Linked DNA regions of Homo sapiens. The protein of the gene in region 3 interacts with the protein of the main gene of each other region in a pairwise test. Each region holds a gene or a part of one and is shown on either strand. Other genes may lie near its edges. The genes, in order: ACOT1, P4HA3 and ACOT8.

Region 1 (3,751 bases), on a different chromosome or scaffold from region 3:
GACCAGTATGTGGAGGAAATGAAACTCACTGCTAGAAGGAGTCAACATATTCATCTGCTCTGGGCAACAATTTGTCTTAACTTACAAAGTTAAATATGTTATTCTACTTGTACATGTGCACCAGGAGGCATATTCCTTATAAGAGGAAAGCCATTGCAGATGAGCAGTCTGGATTAATTTAAAAAAAGAGCAAAGTCAACTGGAAACAGTCCAAATGTCCATCAACAATAGAACAGATTAATAAATTGAGGTATATTTCCAGCAGTCAAAGTGATTGAACTACAGCTAGAAGAATCAACATCTATCAAGATATACAAAAGAAAAGAAAAAAATAAAAAAGAATCAACATGGATGAATCTCCAAACCACTGTTGAGTGAAACAGTCAAACACTAGGAGAACACATTCAGTATCATTCCATTTAGATACAGTTCAAAAAATAGGCAAAATAAAATATTGTTTAAGGTACATAATCTAAGTGGTAATACTATGAAGAAAACCAAGAGTGATACACAGAAAGTCCAGGATACTGGAAAGAGAGGAAAGGGCACAGGGGTCTGTGGGACGTTGATGGTTTGCGGGTATCAGCACTGAACTATGTCTTAAAAGTGTTGCCTGTAAGGTGTTTGCATTCTTTTTTTTTTTTTTTTTTTGAGACAGTGTCTCGCTCTTTCGCCCAGGCTGGAGTAGTGGCACAATCTTGGCTCACTGCAACCTCCAACTCCCGGGTTCAAGCGATTCTCCTCCCTCAGCCTCCCGAGTAGCTGGGATTACAGGTGGCCGCCACCACACCCAGCTAATTTTTGTATTTTTAGTACAGATGGGGTTTCACCATGTTGGCCAGGCTGGTCTCGAACTCCTGACCTCAGGTGATCCACCCGTCTCAGCCTCCCAAAGTGCTGGGATTACAGGCGTGAGCCACCAGACCCAGCCTGCATTATTATTCTTTAATTTTGTGTGAAACACAAAACCTTTAATGTAAATGATAAAAATATTCAGTAAGTGGAGTCATTCAGAATGAGTAGCCTTTTGAGTCTGTCTCCATTGAATAAGTGCATTCTGTTGAGTGCACTGGAGAGGAATTTGTGCTCTTCTATGTAGCAGTCTTTCTTTTTGTTTCTTGGTGGTGCACCATTAAATGGATTCATTCACCAGTTAAAGGACATTTGGGTTGTTTCCAGTCTTTGGCTACAATGAATAAAGTCACTATAAACACTTGCCAGAAGTTTCTGGACGAACACAGGTTTTCATTTCTCGTGGGTAGATACCTAGGAGTGGGATTGCTGGGTCACATGTGTGGTAAGTATATGTTTAACTTGGTAAGAAACCATCCAACTGTTTCAGGAATAGCTTAGTTTTGCATTTTGTTTTGTTTCTTCCCAAGAACCTGGGCCCTTTCCTGGCATTGTGGACATGTTCGGAACTGGAGGTGGCCTGCTGGAGTATCGGGCTAGTCTGCTGGCTGGGAAGGGTTTTGCTGTGATGGCTCTGGCTTACTATAACTATGAAGACCTCCCCAAGACCATGGAGACGCTCCATCTGGAGTACTTTGAAGAAGCTGTGAACTACTTGCTCAGTCATCCTGAGGTGAGTTCTTCTCTCAGATTTATGGGCTATGATGTATCAGGTCTCTTCTTAAATGGTCTGGGTTTTCACAGAAGTTAGCTCATTCATGACAGCCATTCCCTACCCCAACACACACTACCTTTTTTAGTCACTTCTTATAGACAGTTTCTTTCTTTCTTCTTCTTCTTCTTTCTTTTTTTGAGATGGAGTCTCACTCTGTTGCCAGGCTGGAGTCCAGTGGTGCGATCTTGGCTCACTGCAACCTCCACCTCCCAAGTTCAAGTGATTCTTGTGCCCCAGCCTCCCAAGTAGCTGGGATTACAGGCACCTGCCAACATGCCTGGATAATTTTTGTATTTTCAGTAGAGACGGGGTTTCACAATATTTGTCAGGCTGGTCTTGAATTCCTGACCTCAAATGATCCACCTGCCTTGGCCTCCCCAGGTGCTGGATTACAGGCATGAGCCACTATGCCTAGCCTAATTTTTGTATTTTTTTTTTTTAGTAGAGATGGGGTTTCGCCATGTTGGCCAGGCTGGTCTCAAACTCCTGACCTCAAGTGATCTGCCCACCTCGGCCTCCCAGAGTGCTGGAATTACAGGCATGAGCCACCACACCTGGCCTCTTATAGACAGTTTCTATTCAATTCTATATTACTATATTTCCTGCTAGTAAAGATATTTGTAGTTGGTATTATGCAATTTTAAATTCCAGTATGTTTTTTCTTTCTTTTTTTTTTTTTTTTTTTAAGACGGAGTCTTGCCGTGTCAACGAGGCTGGAGTGCAGTGGCATGATCTCGGCTTACTGCAACCTCCACCTCCCAGGTTCAAGCGATTCTCCTGCCTCGGCCTCCTGAGTAGCTGGGACTACAGGCGCATGCCACTTCTGCCTGGCTAATTTTTGTATTTTTAGTAGAGACAGGGTTTCACCATATTGGCCAGGCTGGTCTCGAACTCCTGACCTCAAATGATCCACCCGCCTCAGCCTCCCAAACTGTTGGGATTACAGGCGTCAGCCACCACGCCCGGCCATGAGATGACGTACTTGTTGATGACGACTCAGTTTAGTTATGACAGTGGGAATGGGTGGCTCAGGTGGGAGACAGAAAAAGATCATGGGAGATAATGAGATTAAGGAACTGAGAAACCAGAGTAATTGATAGATCTTCCACATGGTTATCACCAAGAGTGGTGATGGACAAATTGTGGAAAGGAAGAGATAGAGGGGAGGTAAATTCCCAAAGCTGCAAATCTGGGTAAATGGTAGAACCCAGATTCAGACTCAGGTTCAACTAACTTCCAGGGTGGGCACAACTCACCATATTCCACTGTTTGTGGAGCCATTCTTCTTCTTTTTCCTTTGTCCCTTTCTCAGGTAAAAGGTCCAGGAGTTGGGCTGCTTGGAATTTCCAAAGGGGGTGAGCTCTGCCTTTCCATGGCCTCTTTCCTGAAGGGCATCACGGCTGCTGTCGTCATCAACGGCTCTGTGGCCAATGTTGGGGGAACCTTACGCTACAAGGGCGAGACCCTGCCCCCTGTGGGCGTCAACAGAAATCGCATCAAGGTGACCAAAGATGGCTATGCAGACATTGTGGATGTCCTGAACAGCCCTTTGGAAGGACCTGACCAGAAGAGCTTCATTCCTGTGGAAAGGGCAGAGAGCACCTTCCTGTTCCTGGTAGGTCAGGATGACCACAACTGGAAGAGTGAGTTCTATGCTAATGAGGCCTGTAAACGCTTGCAGGCCCATGGGAGGAGAAAGCCCCAGATCATCTGTTACCCAGAGACAGGGCACTATATTGAGCCTCCTTACTTCCCCCTGTGTCGGGCTTCCCTGCATGCCTTGGTGGGCAGTCCTATTATCTGGGGAGGGGAGCCCAGGGCTCATGCCATGGCTCAGGTGGATGCTTGGAAACAACTCCAGACTTTCTTCCACAAACACTTGGGTGGCCACGAGGGGACAATCCCATCAAAAGTGTAAATTTTATTTGATCATGTGGCCTCTCTGTTGCTAATCTCTCCTGGAAACATCTGCCACATTTAGTGTGTGTATGTGTATTCATTCTTTCTCATAACTTCTTAAAGTTTCTTCCCCTCATTATTAAAATGAATTTACCAGTAAGAATGAGTTTTTAAGATTTTTATAAACTGTATACTTTATCAGTTTGGGAAGGGAGTAACTGTAGG
Region 2 (3,651 bases), on a different chromosome or scaffold from region 3:
CTATAAGCATGTTGCCTCTTTAAAGATATTGTCTCAGAATTATTTCTGTCAAGCCAGACATTGTGCCCTTAACATGTGCAGTTCATCCAGGCAGCCATTAGTCATTCGTCAACAGAATAGAGCCCACTGTGTGCCAGACACTGGCCTGGGTGCTGGGCTTTTACAGTGAGATGAAGTATTGGTTCTTTCCTCTTGGAAACTTAGTGCACAATGGAGAAAAACAAATATTTACACTACACTATGATACATGCTATCATAGAGGTGTGGGCAGAGAGTTGTGCTATGCACATAAAAAAGCAAGGCTTCCTCTAAAGAAAAGGCAATTGGGTGAAGAAGAGATGGGGAAGGGAGGAAGAATCAGGGAAGGCTTCACTGTGGAGGTGACATCTATCAGAGAAAGAAGGTAGCAAAGGGTATTCCAGAAAGACAAAACAGTATGTGCAAGGGCCTGATATGTGGTATGTTCAGAGACTGGGCAGAAGCTTGGTGGCTGAAGTGTGCAAGGGATGGGGGCGAGAGGTGATAGGAAATGAAGCTAGATGTGAGACACCATTAGCAGATGCTATAAATGCCATGCCGGGGAGTTTGGATTTTATCCTGTAGGCAGCAGGAGAGCTGTTGGACAGTTTTAATGGGAGAGTTGCATGATCATGTCTGATTTTTAAGGAAGACTGTAACAGCAGACATGGATTGGAGGGAGAAGAGGGGCAATCATCATTTCATCTAAAAGCCCCTCCAGGAAAGTCTAGAATCTTTGCACAGAAGCTTTTTGAGATAATTAAGCCCCACTGGTGAATTGGAGCAAACAGGTTCAGCTTTGCAGTGAGCCAGCAGTAGTAGCTTTTGGCCAGCAGCTGCTTTTTCCTTATAACAGCCCTGTTGCCATGGTAACGGGAGAAGTGACCCACCCAGAGACGTTGATTTAAATGTTCATGGCCATGTCGTCCATTTAGCATGCACAGATCTTGGCACACTTCCTTCCCCTAGAAGTGTCTCTCTGGGGCTGCTGATGCCTGTCTGGTCTGTGGCTCTCCCAGGAATCAGCCCTGGACTGACATGGTAGTGGCTTCCCCATGGGAACTGAAGACAGATGCCTCAGTGGCTTGTGTTGAATATCTCTGCTTCCTAGTCACTGTCCCTTTCCCAAAGCACACTCACTCATCACTTCTCTCTCTCACCACATCCTGCCCATCTTTGAAGACTCAGTTGAAGCCCTGCACCTTCGCTGGGCCCGCTAGCCCTGATCATTCTGGCCTCCTTTGGTTCTTTTTCAGAGCACTTTTTGGAGCCATATACAATTACCTATTCCTCCTCTGAACTCTAAGCTTTTTCTCACTGGTTGTTTGGTACTTAATTTTTAAATGTATTCTGCCATTTATGTGTTGTTTGACATCACTGACAGTTTCCTGGGTCAGCATCCTGTCTCCCCAGTCAGACTGTAAACTAGCAGGCATCATCTTTCTGCAAATGCCTTGCCCCATGTTCTTCCCATTGCTGCCAGAGTAAATCTTTAAAAGGTCAGGTCTGACCACTCAAGCCCTTGCTGAAACTCTTCACTGGGTCACTTTTGCCTTTGAGTGCTTACAAGTCTCCATGGCCTGGCTGCTGCCAACCCCTTCTACCACATCTCCCCCGGCACTTGACGCTCCAGCTGCACACTCTTCTGTCTGCCTGGAACGAACTGCCCTTGACTTCTCACCTGTATGATTCCAGTGTGTCTTGTGGACATCCTGGAAAGACTCCCTGTCCCTCATAAGAATGGGCTATGTGTCCCTCTTTCTATTGCCATGGCATTCTATACTTGCCTATTATGGCCCCATTAGATGTCTTAGGGGCAGGGACATTGTCTGGATTAACATTGTTTTTCCAGTGCCTAGCACAGTGCTTAGCACAGAGAACAACCAATAAATATTTGTTCCAAAAAACGAGTGACTGGTAGGTAGACAATTAATGATTGTTACAGGAAATAAATATAAGGTGACTCCTTAATTTGGGATGGGGGGGATTCCTTAGGGTTTTTTTTTGTTTTTTTTTTTTAAACCATTGATTTTGCCCTAAAAGAACAGAAGGGAGCATCTCTCTTCTATGAGTTTCTCCTCTACAAATGGCTCAGGACAGGACACCAGGGACAATGGATGGAGGCAACATCAATCCCCTTCTGATTTCCTGCTTCCTAAGATTGTAGAGCCACATGTGAGAGGAACTCGCAAGCACATGTTGTTCATAAGCTGCATTTTATTTATTTTTTATTTTTTTGTCCCAAACTTTTATTATTATTATTATTATTATTATTATTATACTTTAAGTTTTAGGGTACATGTGCACATTGTGCAGGTTAGTTACATACGTATACATGTGCCATGCTGGTGCGCTGCACCCACTAACTCGTCATCTAGCATTAGGTATATCTCCCAATGCTATCCCTCCCACCTCCCTCCACCCCACAACAGTCCCCAGAGTATGATGTTCCCCTTCCTGTGTCCATGTGATCTCATTGTTCAATTCCCACCTATGAGTGAGAATATGTGGTGTTTGGTTTTTTGTTCTTGTGATAGCTTACTGAGAATGATGATTTCCAATTTCATCCATGTCCCTACAAAGGACATGAACTCATCATTTTTTATGGCTGCATAGTATTCCATGGTGTATATGTGCCACATTTTCTTAATCCAGTCTATCATTGTTGGACATTTAGGTTGGTTCCAAGTCTTTGCTATTGTGAATAATGCCGCAATAAACATACGTGTGCATGTGTCTTTATAGCAGCATGATTTGTAGTCCTTTGGGTATATACCCAGTAATGGGATGGCTGGGTCAAATGGTATTTCTAGTTCTAGATCCCTGAGGAATTGCCACACTGACTTCCACAATGGTTGAACTAGTTTACAGTCCCACCAACAGTGTAAAAGTGTTCCTATTTCTCCACATCCTCTCCAGCACCTGTTGTTTCCTGACTTTTTAATGATTGCCATTCTAACTGGTGTGAGATGGTAACTCATTGTGGTTTTGATTTGCATTTCTCTGATGGCCAGTAATGGTGAGCATTTTTTCATGTGTTTTTTGGCTGCATAAATGTCTTCTTTTGAGAAGTGTCTGTTCATGTCCTTCGCCCACTTTTTGATGGGGTTGTTTTTTTCTTGTAAATTTGTTTGAGTTCATTGTAGATTCTGGATATTAGCCCTTTGTCAGATGAGTAGGTTGCAAAAATTTTCTCCCATTTTGTAGGTTGCCTGTTCACTCTGATGGTAGTTTCTTTTGCTGTGCAGAATTTAGATGGGGAAACAGGCCCAAGGAAAGGAAGAGGCTTTTCCAAGACTGTCTATCTGGTTTAGCAGGAGGGACAATGACATTATGGAAGCTTCAGAGAAGGGAAAGAGCTTCTGTCTGTGTAGCTCATTGCCCCAGGCACTGCTCTGCCTGCCTGTGAAGCACCAGAGCTGGGTCTGAGCCCTGTGAGTACCTTTAAGGGCAGTGCCCTATTTCATTCATTTGTTTATTTAACCAGTACTAAGCACCTACTCCACCACCAGGTGTTGAATGGACCCTGGGGATACAGCACTGAAAAAAGGCCAAGTCCTTGCCCTCATGAGCTGACATTCTGATGACAGAGGCAGAAGTAGACATGTTTACCCTCATATAAATAAATAATAT
Region 3 (3,651 bases):
CTAAGTTGCTGGACCAGGGGCCTGGGGGAGAGAGGGAATCACTTAGGGGGCTGGGGAGGTGGTACTTAACAAGTGGTTACGGAAGTATTTCTATATACATATATATATAAAATATATATATGGTTTTTTTTCCCAGGTATGGTGGCTCATGCCTATAATCCCAGCACTTTAGGAGGTCAAGGTGGGTGGATCACCTGAGATCAAGAGTTTGAGACCAGCCTGGATAGCATGGTGAAACGCCATCTCTACTAAAAATACAAAATTAGCTGGGCATGGTAGCAGGTGCCTGTAATCCCAGCTACTTGGGAGGCTGAGGCGGGAGGATCACTTGAGTCTGGGAGTCAGAGGCTGCAGTGAGCCGAGATGGTGTCACTGCACTCCAGCCTGGGCAACAAGAGCAAGACTCCATCTCAAAAACAAACAAACATGTATATATATAAACAACAACAAAATATATATTCTTTTTTTCTTTTTTCAGACAGAGTCTTGCTCTTGTTGCCCAGGCTGGAGCACAGTAACACGATCTCGGCTCACTGCAGCCTCCACCTCCCAGGCTCAAGTGATCCCCCCGCCTCAGCCTCCCAAGTAGCTGGGACTACAGACACATGCCCCGACACCCGGCTAATTTTTGTATTTTTTATAGAGACAGGGTTTCACCATGTTGCCCAGGCTGGTCTTGAACTCCTGGGCTCAGGTGATCCTCCCACTTGGGCTTCCCAAAGTGTTATTATAGGTATGAGCCCCCACACCCAGCCCCAGCCTTATTTTTAAATTAGAGATGGAGTCTTGCTATGTTGGCGAGGCTAGTATCCAACTCCTGGTCTCAAGCAATCCTCCTGCCTTGGCTTCCCAAAGTGCTGGGATTATAGGTATGCGCCACTGCACCCGGCCAAGCCCTTCATTTTATACCATGACCCAGTACAGACACACACCAGAAACACACATGACTAAACCTCAAGTTTCACAAAAGGATTCTTGCCCTTAATACATACATATTATTCACTCCAGTATCTTCTTTTCTAATCTGTATTTTAAAAATGCTGGTCAAGACCCACTAAAGGATTCTATGACCCACAAACAGATAGCAGCTGCATTTTGAAAAGTCTGCCATGGAGCCTCCAGGTCTCTCACCTTAAATACTGGTCAATGAGGGTCTCACAGTCAAGCAGCTCTTCTGGTGGTGGCACAGTGGGCATGGAGAACTGGTGCTGCATGGGGCTGGGCTGGGCCTGCTGGAAGGAGGCCTGGCAGATGAAGATGGGCTTCCCATGTTGCACGGCCTTCACAGAGCGCACCGAGAAGCTCGACCCTGTTCGTGTCCGCTCCACTTGGTACAGTACTGGCAGCTTCGGGTCCCCTGCAGTGGGCACAAGGACACAGTGGGTCCACAGGCCCTGTCATCATCACAACGCCTGACAGGCACTCTACTACTCATCTTCCATTCCATTTCATCTCAGTGACTACTAACTGAGGTCTGCTAAGGTCCAGGCCCAGGGATACAGAGACCACCAGGCCCTGTCATCAGGCTTCTCCCTGTGCAGGTGGAGCTTTTCTCTAACAGCACAAACAGCAGAGACATTGACAGATTCCTTGCATTCAAATCCTGGCTCCACCACTCACCAGCCGTGTGACCCTTCACTTCTCTGAGCAGTGTGCTTATTTGCAAACTGGGGATCATCATGGTGCTCATCGCTTACAGGATTTTAATGATAATGAAATGAATCCGTAGTTGTAAAGTGTTTAGAATAATATCTGGCACATAGTGAGGGCTCTATATGTGTTTGTTAAATAAAATTAATACTCCTTGCTTCTATCTTGCTCCATCTATGCCTGGGATCTTGTCATCAGTCCAAAACCATTATTCTAGATCAGGGAGCAGTAAATCTAGCCTGCAGCCTGTTTACTGTTTATTCTGTTGTTGTTTTCTTTTTTGAGAACAAACAAAGGCTATTTATTCAGCGCTTGTTCTTTTTTTTGTTTGTTTGAGATGGAGTCTTGCTCTGTCACCCAGGCTGGAGTACAGTGGTGTAATCTCGGCTCACTGCAACCTCCACCTCTCAGGTTCAAGCGATTCCTGTGACTCAGCCTCCTGAGTGGGGGGGGACTACAGGGGTGCATGACCATACCCAGCTAATTTTTTTTTTTTTTTTGAGAGACAGTTTCGCTGGGTCACCGAGGCTGAAGTGCAGTGGCGCTATCTGGGCTCACTGCAACCTCTGCCTCCCAGGTTCAAGCCATGCTCATGCCTCAGCCTCCTAAGTAGCTGGGACTACAGGCGTGCGCCGCTACACCCAACAAATTTTTGTATTTTTTGTAGAGATGGGGTTTCACTGTGTTGCCCAGGCTGGTCTCAAACTCCTGACCTCAACTGATCCACCCACCTTGGCCTCCCAAAGTGTTGAGATTACAGGCATGAGCCACTGCGCCCAGCCAATCAGAGCTTGTTGTAGCAGGAAGTCAACCACCATCACTTGCTTTTGGCAGAGACTTAGAGGCAGGCAAAGGAATGGGAATGCTCTGTAGTGGAAAAAAAGGCTTCAGGGATGCTCCCATTGCAGGCTGTTGGCATGGGGAAGCTGTTGGTGGGCTAACTAGAAGCATGACACCTGGCTGGGCACGGTGGCTCACACCTGTAATCCCAACACTTTGGGAGGCTGAGGCGGGCAGATCTTCTGAGACCAGGAGTTCAAGACCAGCCTGGCCAACATGGCAAAACCCTGTCTCTACTAAAAATACAAAAAATTAGCCAGGCCTGGTGGCACACACCTGTAATCCTAGCTACTCGGGAGGCTGCAGCAGGAGAATTGCTTGAAGCTGGGAGGTGGAGGCTATGGCAGGAGAACTGCTTGAACCTGGGAGGTGGAGGCTGCAGTGAGCCGAAATTGCACCACTGCACTCCAGCCTGGGGAACAAGAGTGAAACTCTGTCTCAAAAAAGAGTGGGACATCCTATGTGATTGGTTAGGAGTACATATTTGGCTTTCTCCGGTTGGTCCTAAGTTGGAAGCAGGGGCAAAAATTAGGGCAGCTATCAGTTATTAATCAAGTCCTGGCTTTGGAGGCCAATTGTTACAGTGGTCATTATTTGGCTTGCTGGACTGGTTGGTAAAGATAGTGGTCTGACTTCCTACAAGTCTGACTTGTGGATAGTAGGCTGGCTTCCTGTGCTGGTTGCTGCTATTGTGCGTCAGAGTTCTGTTTTTCTACATGGTCTAGCCATTGTCTGTTTGTATATTCAGCCTCTCCCAGGCAAGGGCCACTGTCAGTCACTTCACCCCTGATGTATATGGAAGCCATTTGGTCCTTCACTGTCAGGTGTCTCTGCTCCAAAGCAGAGTGGAAGAGCCTAGGCAACACAGGGAGACCCTGTTTCTACAAAAAATAAAAAATAAAAATTAGCTGGACATGGTGGCATGTGCCTATAGTCCCAGCTAATCAAGAGGCTGAGGCGGAAGGATCACTTGAGGCCAGGAGATCAAGGCTGCAGTGAGCCATGACTGCGTCACTGTGCTCCAGCCTAGGTGACAGAGCAAGACCTTGTCTCAAAAACAACAAGACCACCACCACCAGAGTAGAAGGCACTGGCCAGGGATAAGGCAGCCAACAACAAGCAGGTGAGGGAAGATTTGGAGAGGAAGAGAACTTCCCTGGT

The links.
Region 1: the proteins of ACOT8 (region 3) and ACOT1 come close enough for resonance energy transfer, tested with the Homo sapiens proteins (one large-scale study listed by BioGRID).
Region 2: the proteins of ACOT8 (region 3) and P4HA3 interact in binary tests that used the Homo sapiens proteins (3 or more experiments, as listed by UniProt).

The regions. Positions count from the first base shown.
Region 1 is NC_000014.9:73,540,111-73,543,861, forward strand, and holds the end of ACOT1 (acyl-coenzyme A thioesterase 1), read left to right. Parts: intron 1-1,176; exon of another isoform or gene 1,177-1,191; coding exon of another isoform or gene 1,192-1,297; intron 1,298-1,382; coding exon 1,383-1,585; intron 1,586-2,939; coding exon 2,940-3,545; 3' UTR 3,546-3,686; downstream 3,687-3,751. UniProt on the Homo sapiens protein: Catalyzes the hydrolysis of acyl-CoAs into free fatty acids and coenzyme A (CoASH), regulating their respective intracellular levels. More active towards saturated and unsaturated long chain fatty acyl-CoAs (C12-C20).
Region 2 is NC_000011.10:74,280,517-74,284,167, reverse strand, and holds part of P4HA3 (prolyl 4-hydroxylase subunit alpha-3 isoform 1 precursor), read left to right. Parts: intron 1-3,651. UniProt on the Homo sapiens protein: Catalyzes the post-translational formation of 4-hydroxyproline in -Xaa-Pro-Gly- sequences in collagens and other proteins.
Region 3 is NC_000020.11:45,847,319-45,850,969, forward strand, and holds part of ACOT8 (acyl-coenzyme A thioesterase 8), read right to left. Parts: intron 1,358-3,651; coding exon 1,132-1,357; intron 1-1,131. UniProt on the Homo sapiens protein: Catalyzes the hydrolysis of acyl-CoAs into free fatty acids and coenzyme A (CoASH), regulating their respective intracellular levels. Displays no strong substrate specificity with respect to the carboxylic acid moiety of Acyl-CoAs.